Homo sapiens: one gene and its partners. The protein of the gene in region 4 purifies or fractionates together with the protein of the main gene of each other region. This does not show direct contact. Each region holds a gene or a part of one and is shown on either strand. Other genes may lie near its edges. The genes, in order: ECEL1, MTHFR, FBXO45 and TLR10.

What was found.
Region 1: the proteins of TLR10 (region 4) and ECEL1 purify together in Homo sapiens (affinity purification with mass spectrometry; one large-scale study listed by BioGRID and IntAct). This does not show direct contact.
Region 2: the proteins of TLR10 (region 4) and MTHFR purify together in Homo sapiens (affinity purification with mass spectrometry; one large-scale study listed by BioGRID and IntAct). This does not show direct contact.
Region 3: the proteins of TLR10 (region 4) and FBXO45 purify together in Homo sapiens (affinity purification with mass spectrometry; one large-scale study listed by BioGRID and IntAct). This does not show direct contact.

Annotation. Positions count from the first base shown.
Region 1 is NC_000002.12:232,485,035-232,492,686, reverse strand, and holds the start of ECEL1 (endothelin-converting enzyme-like 1), read left to right. Parts: upstream 1-4,852; 5' UTR 4,853-4,968; intron 4,969-5,932; 5' UTR 5,933-6,033; coding exon 6,034-6,819; intron 6,820-7,419; coding exon 7,420-7,488; intron 7,489-7,595; coding exon 7,596-7,652. UniProt on the Homo sapiens protein: May contribute to the degradation of peptide hormones and be involved in the inactivation of neuronal peptides.
Region 2 is NC_000001.11:11,782,315-11,789,476, forward strand, and holds the end of MTHFR (methylenetetrahydrofolate reductase (NADPH)), read right to left. Parts: 3' UTR 7,146-7,162; coding exon of another isoform or gene 6,956-7,145; 3' UTR 6,730-6,955; coding exon of another isoform or gene 6,338-6,729; 3' UTR 6,065-6,337; coding exon of another isoform or gene 5,835-6,064; 3' UTR 5,734-5,834; coding exon of another isoform or gene 5,559-5,733; 3' UTR 5,180-5,558; coding exon of another isoform or gene 5,074-5,179; 3' UTR 3,409-5,073; downstream 1-3,408. Other genes in the region: uncharacterized protein C1orf167, read left to right, coding at 1-19, 1,860-2,279, 2,834-2,975, 5,074-5,179, 5,559-5,733, 5,835-6,064, 6,338-6,729. UniProt on the Homo sapiens protein: Catalyzes the conversion of 5,10-methylenetetrahydrofolate to 5-methyltetrahydrofolate, a cosubstrate for homocysteine remethylation to methionine. Represents a key regulatory connection between the folate and methionine cycles.
Region 3 is NC_000003.12:196,573,834-196,580,753, reverse strand, and holds part of FBXO45 (F-box/SPRY domain-containing protein 1), read right to left. Parts: intron 3,302-6,920; coding exon 2,945-3,301; intron 1-2,944. UniProt on the Homo sapiens protein: Component of E3 ubiquitin ligase complex consisting of FBXO45, MYCBP2 and SKP1. Functions in substrate recognition but also plays an important role in assembly of the complex.
Region 4 is NC_000004.12:38,778,562-38,786,180, forward strand, and holds the start of TLR10 (toll-like receptor 10 isoform a precursor), read right to left. Parts: upstream 4,430-7,619; 5' UTR 4,360-4,429; exon of another isoform or gene 1-4,359.

The DNA of each region.
Region 1 (7,652 bases), on a different chromosome or scaffold from region 4:
GAGTGCAGTGAGTTTCCAGCGCCAGCGGGTGTGGGTGGGACCTGGGACCAGAGCCAAACACCTGGGCACAGCATCCAGGGGATGGAGGAAGGGCAGGAGGCAGGGAAGGTGGGACAGGGCGGGCAGAGAGGGAGAGTGCGAGGCAAAACTCTGGGCCAAGGCCTTAGGATTTGGAGACCAGATGGGGTGAGTGAGACAACCTAAGTATCCCTCAGTCACAGAGGGTGACCCCGAGGACCTCTGGCTTGGAAACACTAGCACAGGCCACATGGGGAGGAGAGGCACTCAACCATCCATCCTATTGTGTCCTATTTATTAAAAATAAATCAGTAAGGGCTGGGCACAGTGGCCCACACTTGTAATCCCAGCACTTTGAGAGGCCGAGGTAGGCGGATCACCCAGAGTTCAAGACAAGCCTGGGCAACATAGCGAGACTCCAGTCTCTACACAATAAAAAAAAATTGGCCAGGCATGGTAGGAACACCTGTAGTCCCAGCTACTTTGGAGGCCAAGGTGGGAGGATCACTTGAGCGTAGGAGATCCAGGCTGCAGGGAGGTGTGATTGCACCACTGCACTCTCTCTGGGAAACACAACGAGACGTCATCTCTAAAACAACAACAAAAAAGACGATAAAATAAAGTGATACCCAGGTGGGCCTAGATGCTCCCCCTGCAGTGGTCGCAGAGCCTACCTGGCCTTACCTTGGGAGGGCTGAGGCTGCGTGAACGAGGACTTTCATGTTTCTCCTCTACAAACTTGTGTGGCTTCAATATTTTAAAACAAGAGAATATTTACATGTTTCTTGTACAAAAACAACATTGCTCCAGAGGTTGGGAGGTGACCCCAAGAGGAGTCTATGCATGGCGAGGACAAAGCCTACCACGGGGTTCAGAGTGGAGAGGAGGGGTGCAGGAGGGTGGAAAAGTGGCCCCCACTTTGTCATCTGGTGGGTTCCAGAGCAAAGGAAAGGTGTTCAGGATCTGAGAGCCTGGGCAGGTTTGCCTGGGTGCTGTGCCTGGTGTATGGCTTGGCGCTGAGAGATGCTTCAGGCAGGGCATCTCCATGAACTGATCACGGACGTCACCTGAGTTTATCATATGCGTCCCCTGTCCTGGGCTCCAGAAGGGGCCGCGGGCTACCTGGAGGGGAAGAACAGGGGCTGCCATAGGAGAGACTTTGCATCCGGTGGAGTAGGGGCCTGTGGAGGCAGCACCTGACCAGATGGGAGAGGCCACTTCCAGGTGGCCCTGAAGGATGGTTGGCAATTGGCCACCGTAAGAGGGGACGGGGGAAGGGTGTTCCAGGCAGCTGAAACAGCAAGTGCTAAGGCCTGAGGGATGACAGAGCCAGCCATGTTCTGGGAAATGGAAATAGATCAGAGTAACCAGAGGAAAGAGGGAGGTATGGGGGTGGGGAGGCAGAGAGGGACAAAGACAGAGAAGAGCCAGGAGGAGGCCCTGCCTTGTGGGCCACACTAAGATGCCTGAGCTCCCCCGTGAGGGGTGAGGAGGGGTTCTGCCGTGGAGGCCGGAGTGGAGGCCAGGTGTCCAGCAGCGGAGGCCAGTGCCAGCAGTCGAGGCCGGAGTGGGCCTAGTGTGGGGTCAGGACCTAGCAAAGGAGCTCAGCCAGAGGTCTGGACAGGGTGGAGGAAGCCAGGCCAGGAGGGCCGGGGGGTGTGGGGAGGTGATAGGCCAGGCCAGGGAGCCCAAGGGCTGCCCTTGAGGCACAGGAATCTGAAAGCCAGTGGAGGACAGATCCAGCTGTCCCCCCGACCGCCCTGCCAGAGGTAGGCCCCACTGGAGGCTCAGGCAGGACCAACGGGCACCCGTCACCCCACCTGGTCACAGCAATGGGGAGGAGTGGAGGCCTGGGGCAGAGTGGTGGGGTACTGGGCCTTTGGGGTCTCTCAGTTCGGCTGTGGGCCCCGAGCTTTCCAAGATGAACCTGAGTCAGCACCGTGGCGGCTGTGGCGGCCACGGCGGCTCCGGCCTTCCTCCACCCCCTCCCTGCCACCCCGGCCACTTGGGAGAGTCATTTCATTTCTCAAATTAAAAATCCATTTTGTGCTGTGAATAATAGATGGGATGAGCCCCGAGAGGCCGGGTGGAGGACAGGAAGCTGGCTGGAGGCGTGTTTTTAGGGCTCAGAAGATACCACAGATCTGCAGGGGAGGAGTAGGGCCTGGTTGGACAGGGTGGAGGCTGGCGGGGCTCGTCCTGGAGCTGACACCCTGCTGCAGCACACCGAGGCAGGGCAAGGGGTTCATCCCCACCCACGTGCAGGCCGCAGGAGAGAGGCGGGTCCGACCACAAATGGGCTCCAGTCAGGACCAGGCCCGGCGTTAGGTGGGCAGCCCCACCTCAGAGCAGGGCACTTAGCAGCCCACATGGTGAACGTGCAACAGATGCAAGCTACTGGTGACAGCACACTGTCCTCAGGGAGGGCTCTATGTCCAGAACCCAAACCAAGTGATGCCCTGTTCGGCAGAGTTGCTGGGATCTACCCTTGGTCAAGGAGGAGACAGAGAGTCAGGTTCTGAACCCCTCATCTCTGCCCCCTTGCATCCCCTCGGGCCTTTTCTCTCCAAGGCAGCTCTGGCAGCACCCAACTGCTCCCTGAAGCTGGGCACCCAGCTGCCTCACTCAGGGCTTGGCTGGGTTTAGCTGGGCACCACTGTGGCCTGTCATTCTCTTTCTCATGAGTCATGGGGTCATCTTGGTAATTAGGGGTAGGAAGAGATCCCCCAAAAGAGTGAGCAAGCTACAGGCCAGACCACTGGTGCCTACTCCCCTACAGTGCCAGCTTCCCTTACAGAGAAGGTGCCGGAGAGTCAAGGAGGTGGGCCTCTGACTTCTCTTTATTGGCAGTCTGTGTGGGGTGGCCAGGACTGAGGGGTCAGAGGGCCCAATTCCAAGTCAACTCCTGTAGGCCCTGGTTGCTGCTCTCAGCCCGGGGCTGGGGGATGCGATGTGAAAAGAAAAGGTGAGGTGGAGCCAGGCAGGTCGCCCGGCAGGGAGTCGGGAGGCCCATGAGCAGACCAATAGCAGCTGAGTCTGGGAGAGGGTGGCTGGAAGGGGGGTCCCAGAGCTGACCCGGGAGGGAGGAGGAAGGGATGAGGGAGGGCAAAAGGAGGGAGGAGAGACTGAGGGCCTGGGGGCTGCCCCCCACCCCACCCCCGGGACTGGAGCAGAAGAGTCCCTAGGGAAGCGTGTTTGCCTCTGTGCCTTTCTGTCGGAAGAGGCTCTCTGAGACAATATCCATTTTTACATTTCTTGGAAATTTCATGGCATTCATTTCGGGGAAAATAAAAGCTGTCCTTGCTGGAGAAATGATACCAATCAGGGCCTGAAAAGGCTGGAAAATTATCCTCCTGGAGACGGGAACATTGAGGGAAAAATGCAGATTAAAAGCACAAAGAGCCACTTTGCCACCTCCCTGCCCTCCCCTCCCCCCTTCATGGAATCGCCACATTATAAGTAATTCCATTTTTCCTCTTTAGAATTAATAGGACCCAAGAAGGATGCATGGGGCAGAGGACAACCCTGGGGTGGCCAGAGATGGAGGCAGGGTATCCGGAGTGGGGGCTTAGAGATGGAGAGATGAAGAGGCAGGGAGAGGCAAGACAGGGGCAGAGGCCGGCACTCAGGGCCAGGGCTCAGGAGCTGGGCAGATGCACAGACCCTGAGGAGGAGAACAGGATGATGGGTAGGTTATCAGAGTCCCTACCTTGTTGTGATTTTTATTAGATGGTGCTCCATGGCTCTCACACATTGTTTAAGCCAATCCTACGGGCTGGAGCCGGCAGACCTGGGAGGGCTGGTGCTTTGTGGGGTCTCCTGCTAGAGACACCAGAGGCAGGGTAGGGCAGAGAAAGCAGAGACTCCAGAAACAGTATCAGTCTTCCAAGGAGCCCCAAGTTCTCTGTGTCCCATTAGGGCCAGGCTGTCTGGCCAAGGCAGGCAGGCAGGTAGAAGAGGGCTTTGCCTCCAGGCAGTGGGGAGGCCCCACATTTAAAAAGCCAGTTTACCTGGAAGAAGGCAGGCGGTGAGTAAATTCAGAGTCCCTGCACCCAGCCTGCCCTCCCATCAGTCCACATACCAGGGTCTTGAGGCTCAGGGCCTGTCTGAGGCCTAGGGCTGCTGGCCAGAGGGGGCAGGCTCCAGCCTTCCCTGGCTCCAGCAGGGAGACTTCGCTCATTCTTCTCTTGGCCTTTTCTTCCTACCTGGGCCAGGGACTCCCTGAGCCGTGGTGCCAGGGCCACCCAAGGCTGGGGAGGATGGGGAAGGGGGCGGCAAGCCCTCTTCTTGCAGGAGTCCCCGCTGAGCTCCCTTCACCAGGGGCTAGGTGAAGGGAGCGAGGCCAACCAGAAGCCCTAGTGGAGAGCCCATCCAGGGCAGGGGTTCCAAGGAGGACAAAAAAGCCGGTTAGTGAAGGTGCGCTCTGCGCCAGGGACTGTGCCGGCAGACACAGGCACTACTGACACCGCCCCCAGCCCTTCGGAGGAGTCCTCGGCTCCTCATCTCCAGCTCCAGCCCCTTTCCAGCCGGCTGGTGGGCGGCTGGGAGTGGGGACACTGGATCGGAGGGGACCCTTCACGGGAGTACTCGCTGCCCTCACTCGTCTCGGAACGCGGCTGGACCCGGAGTCCCCGACCGCAGCCCGCGCACGACCCCCGGGAGCCTGTCTCCGCGGCCGCCGACCCACGTCCGCGCTGCCGCCCCACTGCCAGGTGGCCCGAGAGATGCAGGAGGAAGGAGGGGCGCGCGGGGCGGGCGGAGGAGGGTGGAGCCGCCGGCGCGCCCCCTCCCTCGGGCCGGCAGGCGGGCGGCGCGGCGGGCTCGGCGCGGCGGCAGAGGAGGCGGCGGGCGCTGGGAGACACCGGACGCCCGCTCGGCTGCGCTGCGGCTCAGGCCCCCGCTCGGGCCCGACCCGCTCGGTCACCGCCGGCTCGGGCGCGCACCTGCCGGGTAAGTGGCGCCCGAGTCCCTGCCGCTGAGGCCACCACCGCGGCCACTTCCGTCGCCGCCGCCGCCACTGCGCGGAGCCTCCCGGCTTTGTCTGCGTCCTCTCGGCTGCGGCTCCGGCTGCGGCTGCGGCTGCGGCTCCCGGGCTCGGCTCTCGGGCTCCGCGGACTGCGCCGCACGGCGCCGGGGCTCGGGGGTCGCCAGCCAGCTCGCTCCCCGCCGGGGGTGAAACTTCGCCCAAGTTTGGGTTCTGGGGAGAACCTGTTGAAGCCAGGAGTGGCTCGGGGCGGGGACAGAGATGGTGGGAGTGGGGGGAGGGAACCCGTCTCGGGTTCTCCATCAGGGCCGTCCAGTGGGTGGGTTGTGTGTCCGCCACCCTGGGGCGTTGGCGCGCGCCCCTAGGGAAGGGGCGAGTGGGCCGTCGGGCCACCGAGCAGAAGGAGCCAGGGAGCGGGGTTGGCGTGGTCGATCCCGCGGACTTCCGCGAGGACAAAGTTTGGTTCTTTGGCCGCTTTGCGGAGCGTCTGTCTGGGTCCAGCGCGGAGAGCTGAAAGTGTCGCATAGACGCGCCCCTGACCGCACCTCCTCACTCCAGCCTCCGCTTCTTCCCCCACTCCACCCGGCCTTGGCTGGGGCAGGTCGTGGAAGAGAAAGGCGAAGGGGAAGAGGGACGACCTTTCAATGAAGGCCCACTACGTGCCAGGCCCCTTGCCTGGCGCCTCTTGCTTCCAATAAGAGCCCTCCCAACCCTGCGGCCCTCAAGTGTGTGCAGGGAGGGGACAGGGGGGAAGACTCCACTGTGCACCCGGGGGTGGTGGCCCCGCCGAACCCTCATAGTCCCTGGTTTCCGCAGTGAATGAGGCCCGCGGCTGGGGCCTCTGCACCCAGGCCTGTGTCCCTCCTCGCGGTGACCCTGAGCCCCATCCGGCTGCGGCGCCTCCTGAGCCTGCTTCCGCCCTTCCCGCAGCTGCGGCCCCAGGGCCATGCGGAGGCCCACGAGGAGGCCGGCGGCCACGCGCATCCCGTAGCCCAGGTGGCCCAGGTCTGCACCGCGGCGGCCTCGGCGCCATGGAGCCCCCGTATTCGCTGACGGCGCACTACGATGAGTTCCAAGAGGTCAAGTACGTGAGCCGCTGCGGCGCGGGGGGCGCGCGCGGGGCCTCCCTGCCCCCGGGCTTCCCGTTGGGCGCTGCGCGCAGCGCCACCGGGGCCCGGTCCGGGCTGCCGCGCTGGAACCGGCGCGAGGTGTGCCTGCTGTCGGGGCTGGTGTTCGCCGCCGGCCTCTGCGCCATTCTGGCGGCTATGCTGGCCCTCAAGTACCTGGGCCCGGTCGCGGCCGGCGGCGGCGCCTGTCCCGAGGGCTGCCCTGAGCGCAAGGCCTTCGCGCGCGCCGCTCGCTTCCTGGCCGCCAACCTGGACGCCAGCATCGACCCATGCCAGGACTTCTACTCGTTCGCCTGCGGCGGTTGGCTGCGGCGCCACGCCATCCCCGACGACAAGCTCACCTATGGCACCATCGCGGCCATCGGCGAGCAAAACGAGGAGCGCCTACGGCGCCTGCTGGCGCGGCCCGGGGGTGGGCCTGGCGGCGCGGCCCAGCGCAAGGTGCGCGCCTTCTTCCGCTCGTGCCTCGACATGCGCGAGATCGAGCGACTGGGCCCGCGACCCATGCTAGAGGTCATCGAGGACTGCGGGGGCTGGGACCTGGGCGGCGCGGAGGAGCGTCCGGGGGTCGCGGCGCGATGGGACCTCAACCGGCTGCTGTACAAGGCGCAGGGCGTGTACAGCGCCGCCGCGCTCTTCTCGCTCACGGTCAGCCTGGACGACAGGAACTCCTCGCGCTACGTCATCCGCGTGAGTGCGCCCCCTGAGCGCCCTGCCAGCGGCCGCGGATCCGGGGCGCAGTGGCCTTGCCCAGGGGTCCCTGCGCGCGGGAGGCGGGTGCGTGAGAGGAGAGGAGGGAAGAGACGAGCAGGAGAGGGGAGGGGAGGGGAGCGCACAGAGGCAGAGCGCGGGAGGAGGGCGCAAGTAATTTCCCTGGGGTAATTGCGGTGTTTAGAGGAGCCGCGGGAGCCGCAATTTCCCAGCCCTCTGGCAGGCAGTGAGGGCCAGGAGGGAGAGGCGCGCCGGCGGGCTGGGTTGACGTCTCCGCGAGGTCTGGAGCTGGCCCCAAAGCTAGGGGTCCCAACTGTCAGTGGGGGACCTACGAATGCCCCGGACAGATAAGGAAAGTGCAGACGTACAGGGGTAAGATTGGGCATCCGCAGGCTGGGACAGTCAGGGATGGGGCTTTGGCCATCTCGTCTGGGTGGAAAGAGGAGCTGGGGTCTGCGTGCTTCTGTGGCTGTACTCATGGATGTCTGGTTGCTCTCTGGGCATTGGAGTGGGAATTCCCTCTGTTTAGGGAACCTGAGGTGTGGGCCTCTGACCTGTGGCCCCTGTCTCCCTCCCCAGATTGACCAGGATGGGCTCACCCTGCCAGAGAGGACCCTGTACCTCGCTCAGGATGAGGACAGTGAGAAGGTGCTGGGGCATGGGATGGGGAGGCAGGGAAGGCCTGGGGCCCCAGGAGGGGTGGATCCAGGCTAGGCCTGTCCCTGTCCCTGGGTGAGCCCCCTCCCCTGGTGCAGATCCTGGCAGCATACAGGGTGTTCATGGAGCGAGTGCTCAGCCTCCTGGGTGCAGAC
Region 2 (7,162 bases), on a different chromosome or scaffold from region 4:
AGCAGCTGCTACTGCAGAGGTGGGTGGGCCTGGGGGTGGGAGGGTGTTGGTCCTCCCCACGCAAGGAATAGCAAGGAGAGCACCCAGGGGGTGGGAAGCTCAGACGGTGGCCCAGATAGGAGGCCTGTGGCCTGGGAAAAAAGGGGCATGAAGGGAGATCCTAGCCTGGAAACACAGGGCCATGACCACTGACACCTTATTACCTATTTTGGGAGTGGTGGCAAACCCCACCCCTAACCTGTGGCCCCAACAAGCCCCGGGAGTCCAGCTCCTGGCCAGGTCAGTTCTTTGGTTTTAGAGGATATGATTAAGATGGGAGAAATCAGCTGGGAACAGTGGATCATACCTATAATCCCAGCACTTTGGGAGGCCGAGGAAGGTGGATCACTTGAGATCAGGAGTTCGAGACCAGCCTGGCCAACATGGTGAAACCCCATCTCTACTAAAAATATGAAAAATTAGACGGGCATGGTGGCAGGTGCCTGTAGTCCCAGCTACTTGGGCTCAGGCAGGAGAATCACTTGAATCCGGGAGGCGGAGGTTGCAGTGAGCCGAGATTGCACCACTGCACTCCAGCCTGGGCGACAGTGCGAGACTCCATCTCAAAAAAAAAAAAAAAAAAGGAGGAGAAATCCACTCCTCGGAAATCTACCATAACGCCCATTGTGAGGAGTTACAGCAAGGAGAATTCTGCTGTACACTGTCGCTAAGAGAAGAGAGTGAAATCTTCATTTAAGTAAAGATGTTCTGGTGGAACATGTATACAGTTCATGAATGCATATTGTAAAACCAAGCAGAGGACACAGAATGGCTCCTCCCACAGTTCAGTACAAATTTGCGAATGTTCAGTGTCCCCGTGGGGCAGTGAACTGTTGGCTACAGAATGGCTGACGTCTGTGCTTTTGCATCTGAGGGTGTAGATGGTTATTTTGTTTGTTTGTTTGTTTTTTGAGACAGAGTTTCGCTCTTGTTGCCCAGGTTGGAGTGCAATGGCGCGATCTCGGCTTACCACAACCTCCGCCTCCCGGGTTCAAGTGATTCTCCTGCCTCAGCCTCCCGAGTAGCTGGGATTACAGGCATGTGGCACCACACCTGGCTAATTTTGTATTTTTAGTAGAGACGGGGTTTCTCCATGTTGGTCAGGCTGGTCTCGAACTCCCGACCTCAGGTGATCCGCCCGCCTCTGCCTCCCAAAATGCTGGGATTACAGGTGTGAGCCACTGTGCCTGGCCGTAGATGGTTTTTTTTCTTGGCTTCTCACTGAGTGAGAGATGGTGTTCCTCTCCCTCACCAACCACCTGGGCATGTGATGGGAGGCAGGGCATGGCTGATGTGGGACTTGAACCCATACTGCTGGTTCCCATCCCCCTCGCAGGGCAGCCCCTGCCCTCTGAGGCTGAGGTTGCAAGATGGAAAGCCAGTGCTTTCACCTGTTACTGGTCGTTTACTGTTTTGTGGGAGATTTGCAGGTGTAACTTTGAATAAATGTGACTTTTGACTCTGAGAACGAGACAAGCCCTCCCATGCATCTGTTTTTGTTTTGTTTCATTTTGTTTTTTTGAGATGGAGTTTCACTCTTGTCACCCAGGCTGGAGTGCACTTGCGCGATCTCGGCTTACTGCAACCTCTGCCTCCTGGGTTCAGGCAATTCTTCTGCCTCAGACTCCCAAGTAGCTGGGATTACAGGTGCCCACTACCAGGCCTGGCTAATTTTTGTATTTTTAATAGAGACGGGGTTTCACCACGTTGGTCAGGCTGGTCTCAAACTGACTTCAGGTGATCCACTCACCTTGGCTTCCCAAAGTGCTGGGATTACAAGCATGAGCCACCACACCTGGCCCAATGTGTCTGTTTTGCAGCTACTTCCAGGCCTGGTGTGAGGTTGTAAGAGACACGGGGGTGCTCCGGGCCCAGCATCAAGCCTTTCAGGATGGCCTGAGGAGAAGAGCACTGGGGGCCGTGTTTGCCACATGGCGGGAAGCCCAGGAAGTGGCAGCCGGGGCACAGGAGCAGCGTGTGGCCCAGGCCTCCCTTGCCCGCTGGAGAAGCTGCGGGCAGCAAGGCCAGGAAGATGGGCAGCAGAAGAAGGCCCGGGCCCCACAGGCCTTCCCAGCATGGCCAGTGGCCCCGGGCATGCACCATGAGGCCCAGCAGCAGGCAGGAGAGAGCGCTGGGGCCCAGGCAGCCCAGTGCTGGACTTGGTGCTGGGCTCTGTGGGTGCATGAGTCCTGTCGGGGCCAGGTCAGCCGAGCCCATGCTTCCTGGAAGCCGCGAGCCTGGTGAGTGCTGTGGTCTAAGTGCAGCCCCACTCTGTGCTTCCAGCTCAGGCCTCAAGCCTGTTTTTGGCAGGGGTAGAGCGTAATTCATGGCTGGGTGGCAGGGCAAAGGCTCAAGAGGGTGGTTGGGGGTGACAGGGAGAGGCCGCCCTGGCCATCTAGTCCTGGGCCACATCCTGACACCGCCTCTTGCTGTGTGTCCCCTCCTTGGGGAAGTCTCTAATGGTCATGCCTTGCAGTCACCAGCACAGCCAGCCACTCAGCAAGCGCCATAAACGCGCTCTTGCCAGGGAAGGGGAGGCAAAGTGGCACTGGCAGGACTGTCCCCTCTCTGCCCCTAAACAGGATGCTTGTCCCCGTCTGTGATTTTCTCCTTCCAGGTCGCTCTCCATCCTGTTTACCCAGATTCTCCCTCCAGAAAAGGGAGTGTGGGAGGTGGGTGGGCCCCAGCCTGGGGCTGGGCCCGGAAGGCCCCCTCCCGCAGGGCACTGGGGGGGCTCCCTGCAGAGAGTCCTGGCCTTTATGGCCCTGGCTGCAGACTCCTTCCTCTCCCGCAGGGTCCTAGAGGCCTCGGTGCAGTCGGCGGTGCGCGGCGGTGTCCAGCGAGCCATCCTCACCCAGCTCCGGCCGGCTGAGCTCAGGCGCTTCCTGCGGACAGTGCAGCTCAGGGTGCGGCTGGGACTGCCAGGGGCCGGCAAGGTACGCCCCAAGCCCCAGACTGACCTCACGCTCTGGCCCCGGATGGCCAGCAGGGGGAGCCTGCTGCTGGACGCCCCAGCCCCTTGGAAACAGGTGAAGGGAGCCTAGGCAGGGCGGGAGGTCCAAAAATGACCCTCGGACCACCGGCCTTAGAATCAGCTTGATTCAGCCGGTGGTGGCAGCATGGCTGGATGCCTCCCCAGGGGCCCAGCAACCTCGTATGCACCACCTCTCCCCAGTTCTCAGTCAGCCTCTGACAAGCAACTCTGAATCCATCAGCAAAGATGAACCTGGCACCTCTCGAGTGCCAGGCCACTGCAGGTCCGGCCGCAAAGACCAGCATGTTGGGTCACAGCCTGTTAGGGAGACATTGAAATGCATGCTTTCTCACGGTGCAGTTGAGGATCAGAATAGGTACACGAGGACAGTAGCATTTTTTTGTCAAGTTTTTTTGTTTATTTTTGAGACAGAGTCTGGCTCAATTGCCCAGGCTGAAGCAGAGGAGTGATCTCAGCTCACTGCAACCTCTGCCTCCCGGGTTCAAGTGATTCTCCCGCCTCAGCTTCCTGAGTAGCTGGGACTACAAGTGCACGCCACCACGCCTGGCTAATTTTTGTATTTTTAGTAGAGACGGGGTTTCACCATATTGCCCAAGCTGGTCTCGAACTCCTGAACTCAAGTGATCCTCCCACCTCGACTTCCCAAAGTGCTGGGATTACAGGTGTGAGCCACCGCGCCAGGCCAAGTTTTTTTTTTTCTTATTGGAAAAGTGAAATATGCTTATTACAGAAACCTCAGAAAATATAAAGTAGAAAAATACCAAAATTTCTTTCATAATTCTCTCTACCCAAAGGCATCGGTCAGTCCCTCTCCAGACCAGAAGCAGTTAGTTCTGACACCAACAAGTGGTGATAAGAGGTTGATAGCCTAGCAAGGGGGAAGAAGCCACCACCAAACCAAACACAAAAAATGACACTGCACAGCAGTCTGGGGACATGTCCTTGAAGGACACAGCCCCAAAGATACTGGCAGGTGAGGTAGTGTCCCTAAGATCAACAGGCATCATCATGAATCCTATTTCAGAATGCCACAAAGAATACGTTTTAGAGAAGATTCTAAGAGAAAAAGCTAAGGTGATTTTTTTTTTCAGTCGTTTTTTGTTCTCAGACAGTGTCTCACTCTGTCGCCCAGGCCAGAGTGCAGTGGTGCGATCACAGCTCACTGCAGCCTCAACCTCCAGGGCTCAAACGATCCTCCCACCTCAGCCACCTGAGTAGCTGAGACTACAGGCGTGTGCCACCACACCCGGCTAATTTTTTTTTTTTTTTTTTTGTAGAAATGGGATCTCACTATGTTGCCAGGGCTTGTCTCAAACTCCTGGGCTCAAGCGATCTACCTGCCTTGGCCTCCCAAAGCATTGGGCAGGCCCATTACGCCATGAGCCACCACACCTGCTGGTTTTTGTTTTTTAAATGGAATTGAAAGGAACTAGCCTTGGCTAGTTGCAGAATTCACACATATGGGGCTATGGCAACAGCAGATTCTGGAGTCTCAGGGTCTTTTCTTTCTAGATAAGTTACAGGGCAATTGCTTTTCAGAGTACTTTTACATTTCTATTCCATTCTTGTCAGTAAAGACAAGGATCCCATAAGCTGATGGAGAAACTGAGGCCTCTAGAAACTAAACGCTGGGAATGGCACCCAGGGTGCTGAATTCCAGGGTCTCCTCTTTTCTGCCACAGGCACACATGCCCCAGCAGCCCCTTTGGAGAGCCCCCTCTCTATAGGGTACTAGCCGGGGGCTCAGACTCTGGAGTCAGACGGCTTCCGAGGGATGAGGCCTCAGACAAGTAACTCAGCTTTGAAATGTTTTCAGTGGGGAGAGAAATAGCCCCCTCCCAGGGCTGTGCTCCGGGAACTGACTGAGGGCTAACTATTATGGGCCCACCCCATTGTTGGAATGTCTTCAGCCACATGGGGGAATGGGTGGAAGAGGCCGGGATGTGTCCTGCCAGCTAGAGCAGCGAAGAAATCCCAGCGGGGCCCCAGGAAGTCCAAGCCCATGGGGTTCAGGTGCTCCTCTCTGGCTATTCCTTCAGACCCGCAGCTGCTGGACACAGGCCACAGAGCTGGTGCCTCCCGCGCCATCACTGCAGTGCAGCCTGGGTGGACGGAGGAAGCCAAGGGGAACGGCCTGGGCTCAGAGTAAGGAGACCTTGCCCCGGGGGACAAACGGTGTCTGAAGTGCAGGGGTGAAGCGGTCTCCAGTCCTCAGGGGCCTGGAAATCAGCTCCTTGGGACACGGTCTTATGTGTATTGACCATTCTCCCCATCCATTCCCTCTTCGGAATGTTTCAGCTGTTCTGAGAAAACACTTTGCATTCCTGCCCCGCCCCTGTGATTTCTCTTTGGGCGGCAGGCAGCCGGGAGAGGCTGGAGGCCTGGGGAGATGGGGGCAGGGCACAAGGCTAAGCTCAGCACCTTCCTCCACCCTCCTCACTGTACTCAACTCCTAGGCGGGCACTAAGAGCAGCTGCCTTCCTGGACCCACCTTAACCTCTTGTGACTCAACTCCCCTTTCCAGGGTGCAGGGAACATTCCCTCTGCCCTGCCTTCCAGCTCTGGCCACAGTGGCCTGGACAGAGTAGCTGGGTCCCAGGCCTGCCCCTGTGGACGAGGGACCAGGGACCAAGAGCGCACTCCAGCCCTGAGCCCAGAGCCTGCAAAGCCCAAAGCAAGGCCCATAAACGGAGGCTACGGTAAGAGGAGCTGTGTGTGCAGTTTGGTGGGTCCGAGGGATGGGGGCAAGGGCTGAGGGGCTTGCCTGAGCCATGGCTACAGCTGGGCCCTCTCTGGCCAGTGCTCGTTCCTGCAGGATCCTGGAAAAGCAGGCCCAGGCCCATGGCTCTGCCCTCCTTCTGGCCCTGAAGGGTCACGATGCTCTTGGCCATCAGGAGGAAGTACCTGCAGCGCCGGTGCCTCGAGGCACTGCTTCACGGGCTGCGGGGTTCCCAGCAGGCCAGGTGCCTGGCAGTGGCATGGCAGCACTGGGTGGATGCCCAAGGGGCAGAGCAGCTGGTGCGGACCCTGGTGAGTGGGTGCACCCCTCTCCACACTGACCATCTCCCATTTCACCTCATACTTAACCCAAACCCCTCTCAAAAGTATGGCCCTTGGACCTACTGACTCCAAAACCTTGGGGGACAGGCCCAGGAATCTGCATTCTTAATACTCCTCAGATGACACCCCCTTGCCATAGCCCTTTCACTCTGGTGCAGCAGTGTCGGGGGAGAAAGGCAGAAGGGCTGGGGACTGCGGGGGAGCGTGAGCACAAGAGGCCTTCTCTGCCAACTGTCCCCAAAGCTCAGGGAGTGGCACCTGAGATGGGCCTGGCAGACGTGGTGGCAGCGGATCCTGCGACTGCGAGTGGCTCAGCAGTTACAGCAGCAGGAAGATGGGTGGGTCCTTTCCCAGGTACTGCCCTCTTCCCTGCATTCCACTCAGCCAGCCTTCCAGAAGTCTGTGCCACAGCCACGCACCGTGGAGCTTTCCCTGCTTGCCAGCCCCGGGGCCCCTTCGTTTTCAGGGGAGGGGGTCAGTTCCATTACAGAACACACAGGCTGGATGCTGGAGCCCTTGCTTTGATTTGTGGCCCCAGCTCAGGCCAGGCCCACCCGGTCCATCAGTTTGCGAAGAAGGTGTGGCATGAGGCATGGCTGCCACTCACACTAGCCCATGGAGGGCCTGGGTCCTGAGCGCCCCCTCCCTCATTTGCTCTGCTCTGAGTACAGCTTCCCAGCTCACCATCAGATCTATTCTGAGCTTGTGCATTTGGCCTAGGCAAGACTGGCTGGCTGCTTGGGGCAGAGGGAGGGGCCCTGGGGACAAAAGGAGCTGGGTACAGGGGTTGCTCTAGCAGGCACAGCACAGACCCCGGAGAAAGCCCACAACAATAGCATTTCCTCTCCTCCCTGGTTCCAGGCCTTTAAGAAGTGGCACCAACGCCTGGCAGCCAGGAGCCCAAGGAGAGGAGCTGCCAGTAGCCCAAGACCCTGGAGCAAGCCAGGCCCCAAGGGCCCCGAGAGTGGACAGGAAGCCGCCAGAGCACCGCGGGGTTGGGGGCTTGGGGCAGAGCATGGGGCCCAGCTGCAGCTGTGACTTGTTCTCATAGAATAAAAAACAGAACTG
Region 3 (6,920 bases), on a different chromosome or scaffold from region 4:
ATTAGAGAGAAACAAGGTTGGGGGAAAAAACAAGAACATAGTTTTAGAGGCAGAGATAAGGACAACATCAAGCAATCCAACACTTACATTAAAGGTAAATGAACTAAACACTTAAAAGTCAGAGACCGAAGCTGGGCGCAGTGGCTCACAACCTGTAATCCCAGCAACTGGGAGGCCAAGGCAGGTGGATCACTTGAGGTTGGGAGTTCGAGACCAGCCTGACCAACATGGAGAAACCCCGTCTCGCCAGGCATGGTGGCTCATGCCTGTAATCCGAGCACTTTGGGAGGCTGAGGCAGGCGGATCACGAGGTCAGGAGTTCGAGACCAGCCTGGCCAACGTGGTGAAACCCCGTCTCTACTAAAAATACAAAAATTAGCTGGGTGTGGTGGCGCATGCCTGTAATCCCAGCTACCCAAGAGGCTGAGGTAGGAGAACTGCTTGAACCGGGACCCGGGAGGCAGAGGTTGCGGTGAGCTGAGATCATGCCATTGCACTCCAGCATGGGCAACAAGAGTGAAACTCTGTCTCAAAAGGAGAAAAAAAAAAAAAAGAAACCCCTTCTCTACTAAAAAAATATAAAATTAAATTAGCCGGGCGTGGTTTAGAGGCGCATGCCTCTAATCCCAGCTACTCGGGAGGCTGAGGCAGGAGAATCACTTGAACCTGGGAGGTGGAGGTTGCGGTGAGCCGAGATTGCGCCATTGCACTTCCAGCCTGGGCAACAAGAGTAAAACTCCGTCTCAAAAAAAAAAAGTCAGAGACAGAGACTGGGTTAGATAAAAATCAAGATCCAACTATGTGCTGTGTAGGAGCTCCACTTTAAATACAAAGACAGATTGACAGAGGATTACTAGAGTCAAAGGAAGTCATTTCATAATAAAAGAATAAATCAGGCAGGGAGATAAAACAATTAGAAATGTATATGCACCAGTAGTAACAGAGCTCCAAAATACATGAAGCAAACACTGAGAGAACTAAAAGAAGAAAGACAAATTAGCAAGGATAGATGGAGATTTCAATACTCCTCTTAGTAAATAATAGAAGGGTAGAAAAAAATCAGTAACACTATGTAAGACTTGAACATTATCAATCGACTTTGCCTAATTCTCATTTACAGAATATTCCATTCAGCAAAAGAATATACATTTTTTCAAGCACACATGGGACACTCATCCAGACAGACCACATATTAGAATAAAACAAATCTCAATAAATTTAAAAGGACTAAAACCATAGAGCATGTTCTCTGAAAAACAGACTTAAGGACTTTCACTTACAAAATCATTACAAGGGTGGCGACAGGACTTCGTTTTTAGTGATAAAGTCTACACACCCTTCTCCTTATAGTATCCGCAGAGCCTAAAAGGATAGTGAGGAAACATTCCATGAAAAAAATCCTTCCAGCTTTTATACCTCAGAAAATGGGATGTATTTTTGGTTCTTCTGCTTTAGTATGCCTGACTTGAGGTCATTACTGAGGCTGGAACTTTCACGCCACAGGTGGCTCTGAAATATGCAATCTATAGTTCTTTAAAGACTTCCAATTTCTTATCAGATTATTGTATATTACACCCTGTTAAGTCTGTAGTAATAAATACGGCTTTTACAAATAGGAACTATAATTTTAACTTGAGTCAAATGAGTATGCCTTAAGCCTAAGATGAAAAGAATAAAAAATACAGCAGTTTGCCTGAATTTGCCTGTCTCTGCAGAACTCACTGATGCCTCCAGGGGCTTTGAATCCACAAACATGTGCATGCACAGAGCTGTATTTACTGGGGTAAGGAGCCTAGAAAAAGATTTGGATGTGCCGTGATACAGGAAAGATGACCATCTAGAGCAGGGGTATTCAATCCTTTGGCTTCCCTGGGCCACACTGGAAGAATTGTTTTGGGCCACACATAAAATACACTAACACTAAAGATAGCTAATCAGCTTTAAAAAAAAAAATTGCAAAAAAATCTCATAATGTTTTAAGAAAGTTTATGAATTTGCATTGGGTCACAATCAAAGCCATCTTGGGCTGCATGCAGGCTGTGGGTTGGACAAGCTTGATATAGAGCATGAACTGGCAAACTACAGCCCCTGGACCAAATCTGTCCTGCAGCCCATAAATAAGGTCTATGGAATACAGCCATGTTCGTTCATTTACGTATTATCGATGACTGCTTTTGTACTATAAATAGAGTTGAAACTCGTGATAGATCCTTACCTTGAAAATGACATTAAAAAAAAAAAGTTGTGACAGAGACCATATGGACTGCAAAGACTTAAAGATTTACTACGTGGCCCTTACAAAAAGTTTGCCAACCCCTGATCTGGAGCAAAAATAGGCTGCTTAAAGTTGTATTAGGAAACAAATATTGAGATAGATCATTTATACATTTATTTAAAAATGGTCAAAAAATCTCCTTGAGGCTGGGCATGGTGGCTCACGCCTGTAATCCCAGCACTTTGGGAGGCCAAGGCAGGTGAATCACGAGGTTAGGAGTTCAAGACCAGCCTGGCCAAGATGGTGAAACCCTGTCTCTACTAAAAATACAAAAATTAGCCAGGCATGGTGGTGGGCGCCTGTAATCCCAACTACTGAGGCTGAGGCAGAGAATTGCTTGAACCTGGGAGGTGCAGGTTGCAGTGAGCCGAGTTGGCGCCACTGCACTCTAGCCTGGGCAACGGAGTGAGATTCTGTCTAAAAAAAAAAAAAGAATATTTTTCTGCATAGCCAAAATCAAAATATAACACCCAACAAAATTAACTATAACCCCCTAACATTAAAAAAAAAAAATCTCCTTGAAGTCTGGGTATCTGAAAAAATAAAAAAATAATAAAAATAAAAATTACCAAAAAGACAAAAACTGCTATATAAAAATTTGTAAATTTAAAACAAATTAAGGCGTGATTTGACAAAGGCCCATACTTGAGAAAAACCCCAGTTTCTCACCTGATATTTTGGTGCGTTGTTGCACTGTGGAAAACTGCCATTGACTTCTCCATTATGTAGTAGATTATTGTCCACCAGATTCCAGCCCCAGCTCTGGTCATCACTGCCCAGCAATGCCACATAACCTTGGCACTGCATGGGGGCCCGTTTTGTGGCAATTCCAATCACTGCCACAGTGCCCAGAGGGCCCTCCCACCACACTTCCCATGCATGGCGGCCCTCACTGAAACCAATCTTGGTCCTTGCACCATCAGTGCTCTGAGCAATGGGGTTTCGATGTAAAGTAAAGCCATTCTTCTTAATGTAGACATTCCTGGAGCAGTCATTAGTGCTGAAGGCATGTTGAAAAGCACGTATCTAAAAAGATGAAAAACAGACCAAATAAATAACAATTTTATTTTTCTTAAATATTAAAAATTACCCAAACTTCACGCTGTATGTTTTTAAATAACGAAGTTATATATTTTAAAATAACACAAGTATTTCCAAATAATGGCTGAAGTTTCAGGATGGAATACTAACAGAATAAATAACATTAAAAAATAAATGCCAACCGTTTCATCACTGACCAAAATTTTAAATTGTAGTATTTCCTCAAACAGACTTCTTAAAACATCAAAAGATACAAAAAAGAAAAATCCTTATATCTTACAGATAATACTGAAACGTTTATGGATAAAATAATGGTATCTGGGAATTGCTTTGAAATATCCAGAGATGGAGTGGGAGAGTGTGCAATAGAAACATGAAACTAGACTGGCCATAAATTAATCATTGGCAAAGCTTGGTGATGGGTATAAGGAAGTTCATCAAACTATTTTCTCTACTTTTGTTTATATTTGATATTTTTATACCAAAAAGTTGAGATGTACAGTTTTCATATGGGCAATGCTGTCATCAAAAAGAATTATATTTTACATAAAACAGAAACTTTAATCCTAGCAGCTCTAAAGTTTATGAAAAATTTTAGTAAACACAAACTACCTTAGATCCTCAGCCTACTTGCTGGATATGACTTACACAATAAAAAAATCACCAATCTCATTTTACCAAATCAAATAATCCCTTAGATAGCATCTAGGTTCAACTACTAGAATTTATGAAGAGAAGCTATCAATAAGACAAGTTAGTTGACTCTTCAGTAAATACAAAGGTTTACACTTCCAAAATAAAGAGGGTATGAAAATAGCTCTTCTATACAAACAATAACAATTTCTCATAAACAATTTTAAACTTTTAGTTTGTGTATTTTAAATTTTTTTTAGACAACGTCTCACTCTGTCACCCAGACTGCAGTGCAGTGGCACAATCGTAGCGCACTGCAGCCTTGAACTCCTTGGCTCAAGTGATACTCCCATCTCAGTCTTCCGAGTAGCTGGGGTTACAGGTTCGAGTCACTACGCCTGCCTGGCTAGTATGTTTTTAAAAAATCCCTTCTCTACTTTAGTCAAACTACCCAAAGCAGTGGAAGGCTGGGACCTATGCTTCAGCTAACCTGAGAAAAATCAACTCCAGAGGCATAGAATGTCAGCATTTAGGAAGACCCTTAAAGGTCACCTAGTCCTTCTCAGGGATTTCAACCGCGAGTTAGTGCAAGAGGCCCAAAGAGAGATCAAGGATCCAGTCCCCTCACCACCTGTTCGTTTACCATTCGCTGGCACTCTACCGTTTCAGTGAGCTGCAGAGCGCAGATTTAAAAACAGAGAACTATTTGTTTCCAGTATCCCATGCATTCACAATAAAACTGAGGCATTCCCAATGTTTTTCCTATCTGCTCGTATTATAAAATACTTTAAGGCACTTATAAGACCAAAACGTAAGATTCAATGAAGGGGCCGGGCGCGGTGGCTCACCCCTGCAATCCCAGCACTTTGGGAAGGCAAGGTGGGCAAATCGCCTGAACTCGGAGTTCAAGACTAGCCTGGGCAACATGGCGAAACCCCAACTCTAGTAAAAATACAAAAAATTAGCTGGGCGTGGCAGTGCACGCTTGTAATCCCAGCTACTTGGGAGGCTGAGGCAGAAGGAATGCTTGAGCCCAGGAGGCAGAGGATGCAGTGAGCCAAAATCACACCACTGCACTCCAGCCTGGGTGACAAAGTGAGACCCTGTCTCAAAAAAAAAAAAAGAAACAAAGAAAAGAAAGGAAAAGAAGATTAAATGGGGAAGGAACATGTCCCCAAAATAGCAAATACTGTCTAAATAACTCAAGAGAATAATATCAATAATTCACTATAAAATATTTAATTAATATTTCCCTATGCCTACTCCCCAATTCTTATAAATTCCAATTTCACATTGACACTATTGACAACCTCTTCCTTAAACTTCCTTTTCTTTTTTTTTTTTTTTGAGACAGAGTCTCACTCTGTCACCCAAGCTGGAGTGCAGTGGCTCAATCTCAGCTCACTGCAACCTCTGCCTCCTGGGTTCAAGCGATTCTCCTGTCTCAGCCTCCCCCGAGTAGCTGGGATTACAGACGTGCACCACCACACCCGGCTAATTTTTGAATTTTGAATAGAGACAGGGTTTCACCATGTTGGCCAGGCTGGTCTCAAACTCCTGACCTCAGGTGATCCGCCTGCCTTGGCCTCCGCAAGTGCTGGGATTACAGGCGTGAGCCACCACGCCCGGCCCTCTCTTCCTCAAACTTCTATGACATCTTCCTATTTCCCTGAACTGATCCTGTATCATTTCCTTTTTTGGTGACCACCCTTCCTCTGCCCCAACCAAATTCTCCAAACTCAGTCCTCAACTCTCTATCTGAATTATTTCCAAACCTGTCTTTCTAAAACAGCACCTTTACTACATATCTCATCCCAGTTCTATAACCTCTGGTAGTTCCATACTTAGTAGCATCACCAACTGCAAATTCTTCTGCCTGGCTTTCACAGCCCTCCAAATCTGATTCTTCCTATTTCCCTTTCTACCTTGATGATGTTCTTCTTGCTGAAAGTATTATATGTGCTTTCTTCTCCCACACATTCTCTAAGATCACCTCTATTAAGCTATTCTTAACCAGGGCCACCCAATTCCCTTGATGTCTCTCTCTGCCGGGTGCTTGCCCACCACTTTCTGTGCCACGTAACAATTTAGCAGCTCTTATTTTCTAACACACTTTTAACCACTGAGTCTAGTACAAAATAACTTGCAAAAAAAATCTAATCTAATCTAAATTGATCACACCTCAGTAGGAAATAGAGGACAGAAGAACATGTCAAGCAACACGATGATAATGAAATCCGCAAAATCGAGCTGAGAGTAAACCACCTTGTTTCCTCAACAAATAAGGTGGGAGGTTGGGGAGATGGTGAGTGAATATGTAGACTAAAATAGCCTTAAGAGACATATCAACCTTTGCCATGGGACCCTTATATAGATCTTGATTATATAAAATATAACTTTAAAATGCAACATTTAACATTTATGAGACAACTGGCAATTTGAACACTGCATTTTTGATATTAAGGAATTAATGTACATTTATATTTAGATGTGATAACCATATTGTGATTACATTAAGTGTCTTTACTTTTTAGAAACAGATACTGGAAACTTCATATGAAATGGGAAAATAGGCCGGGCATGGTGGCTCACACCTATAATCCCAGCACTTCAGGAGGCCGAGGCAGGCGGATCACGAGGTCAAGAAATCGAGACCGTCCTGGCCAACATGGTGAAAGCCTGTCTCTACTAAAAATACAAAAATTAGCTGGACGTAGTGGCAGGCTCCTGTAATCCAAGCTACTTGGGAGGCTGAGGCAGAATCACTTGAACCCAGGAAGCAGAGGTTGCAGTGAGCTGAAATTGTGCCACTGCGCTCCAGCCTGGGCAACAGAGCAAGACTCTGTCTCAAAAAAAAAAAAAAAAAGGAAAATAAAGACCAAATTAATAAATTAAAAACAACCCATAGCCTCACATTCCCATGCACAACCTGAATTTTGTTATGGCAAAAGCAGCATGAAGACCTAGCTTA
Region 4 (7,619 bases):
AGAATGTATCAATGGAAGTGGAGAGAAGTGGTTAGATTCTAATTTCAAATTAGTAAACAATTTAACTCTACGTGTCCCCACACCAGGCTCTCTGAAGGCACCAAGAGCAGGTGATAAGTTAGTGGGGGAGTTTTTCTGCTTCCATTTGTATGTATCTGTTACACATTGACCCTCAACCTCCCTCAGACAGGTCACTCCCATAGACAAGCAGAGGGAGCAAAAGATATGCTCAACAGAAAGAGGATGGGTTAGAGAGAATTCTCTGTGCGTGTCATGTTCCCATCATTCTGAAAGCCTGGATGGGAGGTGAGGGAGGCAGTGGGCACGCCCATCCACAGGAATGCACACAAACATGGCAGGGTAACAAAGGTGGGGCAGAATCAAAACATAAGGCCACTTAGAATGTTACCTCTCTCTCATCTGTATTTCTCTTTCTCTAGAACCTTCCCAAGTCTGGTTTTTTTCTTGAAGTGAAGAAATTCCAGAAAACCTATGGAGAGTAGGGAGTGAGAGGGCCACTCCCAAGTTTTCCATTAGCTGCTGATACTAGTAAAGGAGAGAGAGCATCTTATCTCTTATCTTGGGAACACATATGATCATAGTTTCTTTGTGTGAACTCCCTTACAATGTAAACTTGGAGAATTCCTTTGTAAAAATATTAATTATCCACATTGATCATATAATTTTTATATTTCATAAACTATTGTTTCTGGTAAGTGTTCTCAAATATCTTGGAGAAAAAGCAATCATTTTGGTAAGGTCACCACATTTAGATGATTTCTCAAAACACCAACTTTTAAAAACGTGGTCAAATGACTTAAGATGCCTCCGGCCGTATTTTTCTTTGCTGACATTTCAGTGACTCCCTAGAGTGTAATGTATACTAAAATATTATACTGCATTAATATGTAAATATAACACAGGATAATTATCAGAAAAAACAGGTGAATATTCTATTTAATTAACTTAGTTCCTGCTGGATTTTTGAACTGTTATATATTTAAGAGTAAGTTTTCTACATCTACTTTTAAATATTTCTAATAGAAAATCAGTTTACAACTGTGGCCTGGAAGTGTAATTACTACTCAAATTATTGTGTTCATAGTATCCAATGTATAATGATAAACTTTATATTTTCTTTCAGTTTTCTTAAAACTATACATTAAAATTCAGAATATCTTAATTTCCATGCCACTAGATGCAGAAAATAATTTTCCATGAATTCATGATCTCTTCTGAATGACCTCTTAGTAAATAAACTTTCATTCATTTGCTTGTCACCTGTCCCTTCTCTGTTCATTCCCGTGGTAGCTGTCTGTCTTGTTCACTTCTGTATCCTCAGCATGTAGCATAGTGCTTGACACATGGTGCCTGCTCATTACTGCTTGTTGAATGCACATATGAATGAATGAATCCTTGTATGTATGAATTTCAACGTTTTAATCCTTAGTACAACGTGATGCATAATATGCTCTCATAAATATGTGTTGAATGAATGAATTTATGTTGTGAATTCCTGATACAGTGCAGGGCATGATGGTTGAAGAATGAGTTTGGTAGGCCTGGCGCGGTGGCTCAGGCCTGTAATCCCAGCACTTTGGGAGGCTGAGGCAGGTGGATCACAAAGTAAGGAGATCAAGACCATCCTGGCTAACATGGTGAAACCCTGTCTCTACTAAAAAAATACAAAAAATTAGCTGAGCGTGGTGGCATGTGCCTGTAGTCCCAGCTACTCGGGAGGCTGAGGCAGGATAATCACTTGAACCCAAAAGGTGGAGGTTGCAGTGAGCTGAGATGCCACCACTGCACTCCAGCCTGGGCAACAGAGCAAGACTCAGTTTCAAAAAAAAAAAGAATAAGTTTGGTTTTAGTGATTGATGGATCTGTGTTCAAATCCAATGTTAACCATTCATCCACTCATTAGCTATGTACTCGGACCATTTATTTAATCTCTGAAAGATCTGGTTTTGTCATCTGTAAAATGGAGCTTGTGAAGAGGCATAAGACAATGTATGTAAGTCACTTAGTACCATGCCTAGCATATCACACTTAATAAATGGTGGCAGTTATCAGGTCAAGACTCGGGTGAAGCAAGGAAGGCATAAATGTTAAGGGGGTCCCAAGGAACTCAGTAATCAAGATAATGTTTACATGAAATATTTTTAAAAATGAAAATTAATGCAAAAATCTATGTTGAACAAAATATCGAAATTTTTCATAAAGACAGGATCAGTATTGCTGATTGTTTCTTTTGCCTCAGGCTCTATTATGGCTTGATAGGACCCTGGCAGTTATAATCATTAGGTTGACAAAGGTGCTTTTAATGTTATCCTCTCATAGAGTGCTTAATTTGTAGCAATTGACTTTAAGCTTCTAGGTCTTAGAGCCATGGCCCCTTAAGAATGCAGCAGAATCTAACCCAGTTGCTTTAGCTGGAACTCTGCGCTGAGAAGTCAGAGTTTCTATCTCTTACCCACTTCTTCCCCCTGCCCAATACCACAGTCTTATCTGGGACTACAATGGGAGAGGAACTCTTTTTGAACTTCTCTTAATATAACAATAGTAAAGGTCCTATCTCTCAGGCAATACTTATGCATTATGACATTTTATAAAAACAACTTTTACATAGAGACAGGGTCTCACTATGTTGCCAAGGCTGCTCTTAAACTCCTGGCCTCCAGCAATCTTCCCACCTCAGCCTCCCAAATGGGTGTGATTAGAGGTGTGAGCCACTGTGCTTGGCCTCATTAAAGCAATTTTAAAAGTAGGACATACACTTTTTTTTTTTTTTGAGATGGAGTCTCGCTCTGTTGCCCAGGCTGGAGTAAAGTGGTATGATCTCAGCTCACTGCAAGCTCCACCTCCCAGGTTCAAGCGATTCTCCTGCCGCAGCCTCCTGAGTAGCTGGGATTACAGGCACCTGCCATCACACCCGGCTAATTTTTGTATTTTTAGTAGAGATGGGGTTTCACCATGTTGGTGATGTAGTCTATAAATAGTATATATATGTTAATATCATATCCCTACTACTACGTTAAAAGCAGGTAAAAAACAGAGAATGACCTTCCTTAATACATCTTTAATATCTTATAATTTAAAAGTCCAAGTCAAAAGACATCATCAAATGACAACTAGTGTTTTACCAAAGAATATTTAATCATCTAATTTATCTTTTCCCAATGATATAAAGAAATAGAAAAGAGATTAAGAACCTATTGAATGTTGAATGATCTTTGCAACATAAGAGTAAGAATGACTTCTTTTCAGTATTTCCTACGTGTCTGACATGGAGCTAAGTGTTTTATGTCCATTACCTTGTTTAATCCCTCAATGACTCAACAAAATGGCGGCCATTATTATTCATATTTTACAGATGGAGGAGCTAAAGCCCAGAGGTAAAGTAACTTGCCCAAGATGACCAACTGAAGAAGCAGAGATTTGAACCCAGACCTGTCTGGTTCCTTCTGGATGGTAACTAAACCCAAATGCAAGGCACCTCAAACCTTGAAATGAGGTGGCTTAAGATGTAACGACATCCTAAGGACCGAATCACTGAGGTTGAATCCATTGATCTGACCAGCTGCCATGGCGGCCACTTCCTCCTTTCTCACCCCATGCCCCTGTCTATGAAGCTTCATGCAGCTGCTGTGGGACACTCTGCTAGGTGCCACAAAGTTCAAGAGACTTTGCCTACATGTATAAATATATTCTTAGGAAAGTTATAAGTTCACAAGAATTGAAATAAAACTCGAAGTGCATCCTATTCCTAATTAATAGCTCAGTGTAGGTGGTCTGGGAGAAAGCTTATCAAGAAACCAAATGCTCACAGGTTGTTAACCATCCTCTTCTTTACAGCAACCACATATGGCCCTCTTTGTCCACTTCTGAAGGAAACGGAATAAGAACTGCATTGTACAAGATCCATCAGATCTGCCCCTACTTTTAAACAGGTAACACAAATGCAGAACTTTTCAACGGGGTAAAGGAGCAACAAATATGCCTTAAATAGCCAAAGGTTTCATCCAGCAGAGGTTAACATACGCTGTGGGGAAATAAGAGCTAGAAAAAACTTGCCACAGTGCATAGGACCGTTCAATCTGAATAGAAGAGCTGACCAGGTTTGATCCGCAATCAGTGAAAAGAAACCCACGCTCTCAAGCATCTGCAAGAAATTCCTCAGATCAATAGCCCCAAGGTCACTAATCATTAATCTAGACAAAATAGTAAATACTAAAAATCTAAATAACCCTACTTCCCTCCCCTCAATATTAGCTCAAATTATCTCCTTTTTAGAAAATACCCATGCAGCCCTTATATCTTTTTAATGAGAGTTACAACAAACAAAGCTAAGGTTCTTACCCCACGGCTTGCACTCTCTCAGCAGAGCTGCAGGTGCGTGGATGATTCGTTGACACGGTCAGAATTGGCTGCAGGAGGGAATTGAATCGAGGTTTTCTGTAAAGCTTAAACCCCATCCGCCCTCTTCTGCATGCTACTGGTATTGCATGTTATATATATTCATTATAATCTTAGCACTTTTTTAAATTGTGGTCAAATACACATAACATAGGAGTTATCATGCTCACCATCTTTCTATTTTTATTTTTATTTTTATTTTTTTTGAGGTAGGGTCTCACTTTGTCACCCAGGCTGGAGTGCAGTGGTGTGATCACTGCTCACTGCAGCCTTGACCTCTTGCGCTAAAGCCCGCAAGAGGCTGGGCTTCTCAGTCCCGCAAATGTCTGGGACTACAGGCGCTCACCAACTGGCCTGGCTAAGTTTTTTGTATTTTTTGTAGAGACGGGGTTTCGCCAGTTGCCCAGGCTGGTCTTGAACTCCTGAGCTCAAGTGATCTGCCTGTCTCGGCCTCCCAAAGTGCTAGGATTACGGTGTGAGCCACCGCGCCTGACCTTAAGCATTTTTAAATGTACAATTTAGTGGCATTAATTAAGTACATTCACACTGTTGTGCAACCACCACCACTGCCCATCTCCAAAGATTTTTCGTCATCCCAAACTGAAATTCTATGCCATTAAAAAATAATTTCCCATTTTCCCCTTCCCTCAGACCCTGGAAACTATAATTCTACTTTCTGTCTGTGTGAATTTGACTACTCTAGGTACCTCATGTCCGTGGAGTTATACCATATTTGGTTTTTTGTGACTGGCTTATTTCATTGAGCATAATGTCTTTAAGGTTCATCCATATCATTTCTATTATTATTACATAGAATAATAGAATCTTTCCTTCCTTTTTTAAGGCTGAATACTATTTTGTTGTATGTACGTCCCACATTTTGTTCATTCATTCATCCATCAATGGACATTTGGGTAGTTTTCACCTTTTGGCTCTTGTGAATAATGCTGCTGTGAACGTGGTGCACAAATATCTATTTAAGTTGGTACTTAACATTCTTTTGAGTCTATACCTAGAAGTGGAATTCACGGATCGTATGACCATTCTGTTTAATTTTTTGCAGAACTACCATACTGGTTTTCCACAGCATCTTAGAGCTCTTTGATGATGCTTTTCTTCAAGGTGCAGGTCGGTTATCCCTTTCATCAGTTGGGTGGGGCAGTCATGTGATGATGGGCAGGAGTAGGAATGGTGACTCCATAATTTCAGCAATCAGGCAGGAAGAGGGTGGAAAGGAGTTATCTAGAGCAGTGGTCCCCAACCCCTGGGCCACAGACAGGTACCAGTTCATGGCCTGTTAGGAACCGAGCCACACAGCAGGAGGTGAGTGGTGGGTAAGCAAATGAAGCTTCATCTGTATTTACAGTCGCTCCCCATCGCTTGCATTACCACCTGAGCTCCACACCCTGTCATATCAGTGGCAGCATTAGATTCTCATAGGAGCTTGGACCCTACTGTGAGCTGCATATGGGAGGGATCTAGGTTGCGTGCTCCTTATGAGAATCTAATGTCTGATGATCTGTCACTGCTTCCCATCATGTCAGATGGGACCATCTAGTTGCAGGAAAACAGGCTCAGGGCTTCCACTGATTCTACATTATGGTGAGTTGTATAATTATTTCATTATATATTACAATGTCATAATAATAGAAATAAAGTGCACAATAAATGTAATGTGCTTGAATCATCCCGAAACCATCTCTCCTCCATCTCCAAACCCGGTCTGTGGAAAAACTGTCTTCCATGAAATTGGTCCTGGTGCCAAAAAGATTGGAGACCTCTGACCTAGAGGCCTTTTCTTGAAGTGAAGTGGTAAAATAAGCATGGTATTTTTTAAAATGTAGATCGCAAAGTACGGATCAATTTTTAAAGCAACATTTTTGAGGTTTTTTTCATACTTGACTTAAGATTTAGGTGACTGCTGGAGATCACGAGTAAAGAAGAAAATTTCCAGATGGATTTGTCTACAGGAGGAATGATCAATTTAAACATGAATGATTATAATAGATTTATGTCTTATAAAATTGGGGAGTGGGTGGGTTCTTAAAATACATTTTTTAACTATCATATTGGGGTTTTTAAATTTAAAATGTAGTCCATGTATTTCCACATATATTGTAGGGGGAAATCACACAAAATATAAATAACTGTAAAAAGAAAAACAACAGCAAAACAAAACCAGCTCTGCTCCTCACCTAAACATATACAAACATGTCTATATTACACAAACGTAGGAAGACAGGAACACCCGTCAGGAACGTTGGAGAGGGGATTCCCAGCTTGTTGGATGAACTAAGCTCTAAAATCTTTTTCATTTCAGAAATTCTCAAATTACTATGATCAGCACACTCACACTGTATATTGCCCTCTCAAGGAAAAATAATCACTTGGGGTTTTTGTTGTCCAAAGACATATTCTTCCTTTCCCCAGAGACCAACATGTTTAAATACTTTATTGTCAGAAAACGGAGAAGTTTTCTTTAAGTGTTTTTACATTTGTTTACCAAAAACAAGTTGAGCCAAGTAGAGTTGTTGCTTGTGTCATCTAATCATCATCATTAAGCTTGCATTTACTTCCTAAGTGCAGATAGTATTGCACACAAGATATTGGCTAATCACCACCACAAACTACATAGAACATATACTTTATTCCCATTCGCCAGATGGAAAAACTGGTTGAGAGAGAACAAAAAACTTGCACAAGGTCATCATCCAATAGGGGAGGGAGCCAAGATTCAAAACTAAGTAAGTCTGGTTCCAAAGCCCACAATTTTTTCACGACTCCAGATGCCCAAGAGGTTATGTAATACTCTCTCTGCCTTCACCTGAGATTTCTAAAACGTTTAAATCTTTATTCACAACTAGCAACCAAGAATAGTATGCTCAGAACCATATGTGCTGATAACTTTAAGATGTAATATTTTTATTCCTTTTTAAAAAACTTCCCCCTGCCCCTACACACATGCATGCACGCAGGCACGCGCACACACACGCACGCACACACACAAACACACAAACACACATTTCCCTCCTATGTCTTCCTCTGATACCAGACGTGGGCCAGCTGTGATTCTGCCTTCATATATGTTGCAATGAACAGAGAACCTTGGGTTACCACAAGGGGATGGAGGTTTATTTTAAAGACACTAGAGGCTGTAAGGAAACACAGCAGCACAGCCAGGCCCTCTAGAGACCTGGAGCAGT